2 separate regions of the Homo sapiens genome follow, and region 1 is linked to region 2. Evidence: fine-mapped expression QTL. A gene starts in region 2. The other region holds a variant in brackets. All regions are shown on one strand. Distances are from middle to middle. Region 1 has its middle 8.5 kb from the start of GFRA4. Region 2 holds the start of ADAM33 (ADAM metallopeptidase domain 33).

Region 1 (2,902 bases), 27 kb after region 2:
AAATAAAAACCAGAAATGAAATGACCTCAAATAAAAATAGAATTGTGGATTGAAAATATAGGCATATGCTTTCCAAAAGACTGGAAAGATAAAAAGGACAGAACCTATTTGAAAATTATGAGATTGCTTCATGGCTGTCAGTGGTCCCAAAGATATGTCCACATCCTAACCCCTGGATCCTGTAAATATTACCTTATATGTAGGCAAAAGAGTATTACTTTCTGTGGCAAGAGATGTGATTTAAGTTATGTTTTATGTTTTTTTTTTTTTTTTTGACAGTCTCACTCTGTCACCCAAGCTGGAATTCAGTGGTGCAGTCATAGCCCACTGCAGCCTCAAACTCCCAGGCTCAAGCAATCCTCCTACCTCAGCCTCCTGAGTAGCTGGGACCACAGGTGTGTGCCACCACGCCTGGCTATTTTTAGTAGAGACAGGGTCTCCCCATGGTGCCCAGGCTGTTCTCCAACTCCTGACCTCAAGTGAACCTCCCGCCTTGGCCTCCCAAAGTGCTGGGATTACAGGCGTGAGACACTGCACCCAGCCAAGTTACAGATCTTGAGAGGAGCTTATCCTGGATTATCTAAGTGGGCTCTCAACACCTGTATGTCGCACCTCTGCATCTCATGAGAGTGATGCAGAGGTGTCTACAGGGAAACTAAACACAGACATTTTGAGCAAAAGACCAGGGGAAGACAGAGATAGGGATTGGGGTGATGCAGCCACAAGCCAAGGAATGTCAGGAGCCACTGGAAGCTGGAGGAGGTAGGCACAGATTCCCCTAGAGTCTCCAGAGACTACAGCCCTGGCAACACCTGCATTTCAGACTTCTGGTCTCCAGAACTGTGAGAATCAGTTTCTCTTGTTTCAAGACACTGAAGTTGCGGTAATTTGTTCTGGCAGCTCCAGGAGACTAATAGCACTGTCTAAGATCATTAGAGTTTGGTTTCCATTACTCTACCTAAAAAGGTCCTGGTTTATACACGGTGTTAAGTCTGGCCAAGCCTCAAGGCTGAGTCCAGCTGTGGCCCCCATGACCAGGAATGGGTCATGCGTTGTTCCTCCACATCTGAATGTCAGCCTCCTTGTCCTGCCAGGGCGCTGTCGGTTTTGTGCATGGGCTTTGGGAGACTGCAGTCCTGCCCCCACACTGCCCTCCTGTGACTGGGTCTCTGTTACCTGTTGCCTGGCAGGTGGCTGGGAGTGGAGGTGATGCGAAAAGGCAGGTGCTGGAAGCATCTGTGGATTTATTACTGGAAACTTCACGGCTCATGAATGTCCATCCTGGTGTGGAGCCCGGTGATTAGGTGCAAGGTTGAAGTGGAAACCACTTACCGCCCACTAAGCGAGTCAGGCCGGGCCATGCTCACAGAACCAGCTCATTTTTGCATGAAATGTGGACACGGG[TTG/G]GTGGAATTTCCAGAGGGCCAGGAGGACAGGGGCTGTGCAGGGCTTTAGGAGCAGTCTCTCAACCAGACAGCAGCTTGCCAGTGAGCCTGGCATGCTTGTGAGCTGAAGCAGAAAGGCACAGCCCTGCCTTGCCGGGCTGCTGGGAAGCCCTGGATCGGAGGATGTCTCGGGAAGCTGCTCTGCTGGGGGCCTGTCTCTCCACACCCAAGCGAACCTTCAGTTCAAGGCAGAAGAGAGAGAGAAAAATTAAGATGAGGACACACACTAGAAAGTAAAACACACACAAACTCAGAAATGGAGTCTTCAAGGGGCAGGAACCAAACGTGGAAGGAAAGGCTTACAGGGCATGCCAGTGGGCCCTGGCAACTCCATCCAGCACATTTGAGATAGCCATCGGGATCTTCCGGTCTATGGCTTTCTTGTTTCCAGGACACAGGGTGGAAGGGAGTTCTTGTTATACAGCTGGTACCTGCAGGGCTGCAGGGCGTGTGTCTGTTCAGACGTGACCCATACAGATGCCAGGAATGACACTGCTGTTGTTGACAGAATTTGTCAAAATGATGACCAGCTGATGATAAGTTTTAAGGAAAACGAAGTTCAGTTTTCCCTTGATGTACACAGTAGTTGCACTGCTGGAAAGCTGGCTGTATATTAAACCAGCTCTCAAGTACTTTGTGTTTATAACTGGGTTAGGTTCTCCACGCAAACAACTGGGAATGGACTTTTTCATTCTCAGAAATATCCAGCAGGCCTACCAGGCATGCTGCCCCCTCAGGGCCTCTGCACCTGCCATCCCTGTTTGGAATGCTCTTCTCCCAGACCTCCACATTCCTTCCTGCCCCCTCCACTCATCGTTCTGCTCAGCTGTCACCTTAGCAGAATGGCTTCCCCTGGCCACACTATGTTAAGTAGCAATCCCCCCAGCACTTTCTACCCCTAACCCTACTTTTACCTTTCTTCACAGAGCTTATCTGACATTTTATTATCAACTCCCCTGGAGGACATGGAGTTTTCTGTTTTGTTCATTGCAAAATCTCTGATCCTGACACAATGCCCTAGCCCTGATGTGCTCAATAAAAATTTGTTGAATAACTAGGTGAATAAATCTAGAGAATTAATTAATTCACTTAAGCAGCATAAAACAAGATACCTAATTCTACTACCTTTGGCCTATAGTGCTCTGTTCCACAAAGTCATTCAGGGACCCAGTCTCCTTCAATCCTGTTGTATTACCATCTTCACCATAAGCCTTCAAGGTTGATGGAGACAGTGGAGGAGACACTGTTACTGTGAATGGCCTTGAAATGACACATCATTGGTGAGGGCTGGTCCCAAGGCATCTGGGTAGATGCCACGGGCCCAGGCCATGCAGTCGAAGCTGTGGACTCAGGAAGAGGAAATGTGTGGTAAGCATCTGGCCCAGTTTGCTATTCTGATCACCAAAACCAGTTTTGTGCTTCCTCTCCTACATGGGTCACAGGCACCCTCTCCTAGG
Region 2 (2,902 bases):
CGGTGTCTCACGCCTGTAATTCCAGCGCTTTGGGAGGCCGAGGCGGGCAGATCACCTGAGGTCGGGAGTTCGAGACCAGCCTGACCAACATGGAGAAACCCCATCTCTACTAAAAATACAAAATTAGCCAGGCGTGGTGGCGAATGCCTGTAATCCCAGCTACTCGGGAGGCTGAGGCAGAAGAATCACTTGAATCTGGGAGGCAGAGGTTGCAGTGAGCCCAGATCATGCCATTGCACTCCAGTCTGGGTAACAAGAGAGAAACTCTGTCTCAAAAAAAAAAAAAAAAAAAAAAGATTTGCTTAAAAGTTAACATCTCCGGCCGGGCGCGGTGGCTCATGCCTGTAATCCCAGCGCTTTGAGAGGCCGAGGCGGGTGGATCACGAGATCAGGAGATTGAGACCATCCTGGCCAAAATGGTGAAACCTCGTCTCTGCTAAAAATACAAAAGTTAGCTGGGGGTGGTAGCGCGCGCCTGTAGTCCCAGCTACTCGGGAGGCTGAGGCAGGAGAATCGCTTGAACCAGGGAGTCGGAGGTTGCAGTGAGCCAAGATCGCGCCGCTGCACTCCAGCCTGGCGACAGAGGGAGACTCCATCTCAAAAAAAAAAAAAAAAAAAAAGTTAACATCTCATCCAAATTTGCACCGAGTAGGAAAACAAAAGTTTAAAACATGAAACAGATGTTACTGAGGCCGAAAGGGTCTCCCAGGCCTGGGAGTCTGCAGCTTTTATGCAATTCTGCCCTCTGGCCACCGCCAGGGAAGAAAGGTTGTCTCCGTCTGCTGCATCGCCTTTGCCCAGCAATGAAGCCCCCAAGACAGCGGCAGCCGGTTGCCTGAACCTTCCTATCCTTGGGGGCACCCAGTGCAGGTGGATGACCCGACTCAACCTCCGCCAGGGCACCCTCGGGGCAGGACGGGTAGCAAGGAGGGGACAGAGATCGGCCCCAGGAGACCACGGAAGATCGCGCTCCTGGGGCCAACTTCAGCAGCGAGAGGCGGCCTTTGCCCACCGCCTCATCCCACCACGCCGCGGTCCTCCAAGAACCTTCCCAGCGGTTCTCTCCTCCTCTCAGGAGTAGAGGCCCTCTGAGACCGACGGGGAGGGACGGCTCGGGCCGGTCATCCGAGGGGCCGCACGGATTCCCTCCTCCGCCCAGCTCCACCCCCTCGAGGGGCGGCGGTCCGGGAGTGGCGACCCGGCTCCCCCATGGCGCGCGCCGTCGGGGCCCCTGGCCAGGCTCCGAGCGGGGTTGGCGGGGAGGGGAGGCGGGAGCGAGGGCGGGCGGTGGGAGGTGGGGGCGGGAAGGTCCGAAGGCGGCGGCCTGAGGCTGCACCGGGCACGGGTCGGCCGCAATCCAGCCTGGGCGGAGCCGGAGTTGCGAGCCGCTGCCTAGAGGCCGAGGAGCTCACAGCTATGGGCTGGAGGCCCCGGAGAGCTCGGGGGACCCCGTTGCTGCTGCTGCTACTACTGCTGCTGCTCTGGCCAGTGCCAGGCGCCGGGGTGCTTCAAGGTGAGGACGCGGGCGGGGTGCGCCCTGAGGGGCAGGCTAGGCGCGGTGGTGGTGGCGGGGATGGGTTCTGCTCAGAGCTCGGGTCAGCGCGCGGAGGGTCTCACGGCCCCGGCACCATACGGCCAGTAGGTCAGGGCGTGGGGACTCTTTGGGGGGGTCTCCGTGGGACCTGCCCAGGGACGCTCAAGTGTGCTTGGGCTGGCCCCGGGCCCGGACTTGCCCACACTGCCCGGCTGCCACTCCGCTGGCAAAGCAGAGGGCATGGCTCCCTCCCCCTCGGGGGCAGCCCAGCCCCCAGCCCATAGCCGTAGCCCCCTCTTCCTGGATTCTCGCTCTCACAACCAGCTTCCATCCGCAGGCCACCGTGTGACCCGCTCCTGCTCCTCCACCCCTTAGGACTCAGCGGGGCTCCGTCCTCTAGGAAGCCCCCATGCCCAAGAGTCCCCCAGAGTCCCTGCTTTGCTCTCAGGCTGCAGAACTAGCTGTGGCCTCCACCCTGCTCACCCCTCGTCCCTCCTCCCAGGGCAGCAGGGCAGTGTGTATGTTGTTTATATTGTTGCCTTGTTTGGTGAGATAGAGAAGGGCCTCTCCAGATAGAAGGTGTCTGTTTAGCAGTGCTCTGGGAAGACTGCAGCTGTCTCCTCGGGGTAACCCCTCCAAACAAAGATGTTAAGATGGGGCTGGAACAACCTCTGCAAGCGGGTGGGAGGATTAGCCAGTCCTGCACAGCAAGTGCCTGGCCGGGAACAGGGAGGGCAACCAGGGAGGGGGCATGCGGGGCTGGGCTGTGCTATGCAGACTGGGCGGTGGCTTCCACAGCACTGTGTGGGGACCAAACAGGTACAGGGGCCTGGTCTGTTCTGGCCCCAGGGGAGGGCCCCAGGCGGTCCACTGCTCCCTCCCCTCTGAGCCCTATCCTGGGGTCAGGGGAGGTGATGGGACCCCTGGGAGAGGGGCGTCTATGTGCCCAATACCAGCCTGGCTCCCTCGGGTTCCACCCCCATTCACCCGGTCACCGGAGCTCCAGCTCCAGCTCCAGCTCTGCCCCTCTCTCCCTCATTGGGGTCAGGGTGCCCGTGGCCAGCACGTGCGCGCAAGGCCATGTGGACAGCACCCACACACCACACTGCACCCACACCACACCTGTGCCCGGGCCCACCCTACCTCTTCCCCAAACCCTTAGAGGCCTAGGAGCAGCAAAGCTTGGTTCTCTACTCTCAGTTAAGTGCTCTCTGGGCTGAGAGACCTCCCCTCCTTCCCCTCCCCCACATCCACTCAGAGCCCTCCCTGCACTGGCCCCTCTAGCCTCCTTTCCAAGGTGGCAGACTCCTCTCGGCCCTCATCTGCCTGATGGCAATTCACTCATCCAATCAAGGAGGGCTTCTTGGA

The links. PIP is the estimated chance that this variant, and not a neighbour inherited with it, causes the effect.
Region 1: its variant is fine-mapped to the expression of ADAM33 in thyroid (GTEx, PIP above 0.99).

Annotation. Positions count from the first base shown.
Region 1 is chr20:3,653,428-3,656,329 of GRCh38, reverse strand. No RefSeq gene overlaps it. Among named protein-coding and RNA genes, the nearest start is that of GFRA4, 8.5 kb to the left of the region's middle. The variant TTG/G (reference allele first, on the strand shown) is at 1,405.
Region 2 is chr20:3,680,519-3,683,420 of GRCh38, reverse strand. ADAM33 (ADAM metallopeptidase domain 33) reads left to right here and starts at 1,411. Exons shown (of 22, transcript NM_025220.5): 1 at 1,411-1,513. The coding sequence starts at 1,417. RefSeq lists an enhancer at 1,093-1,986.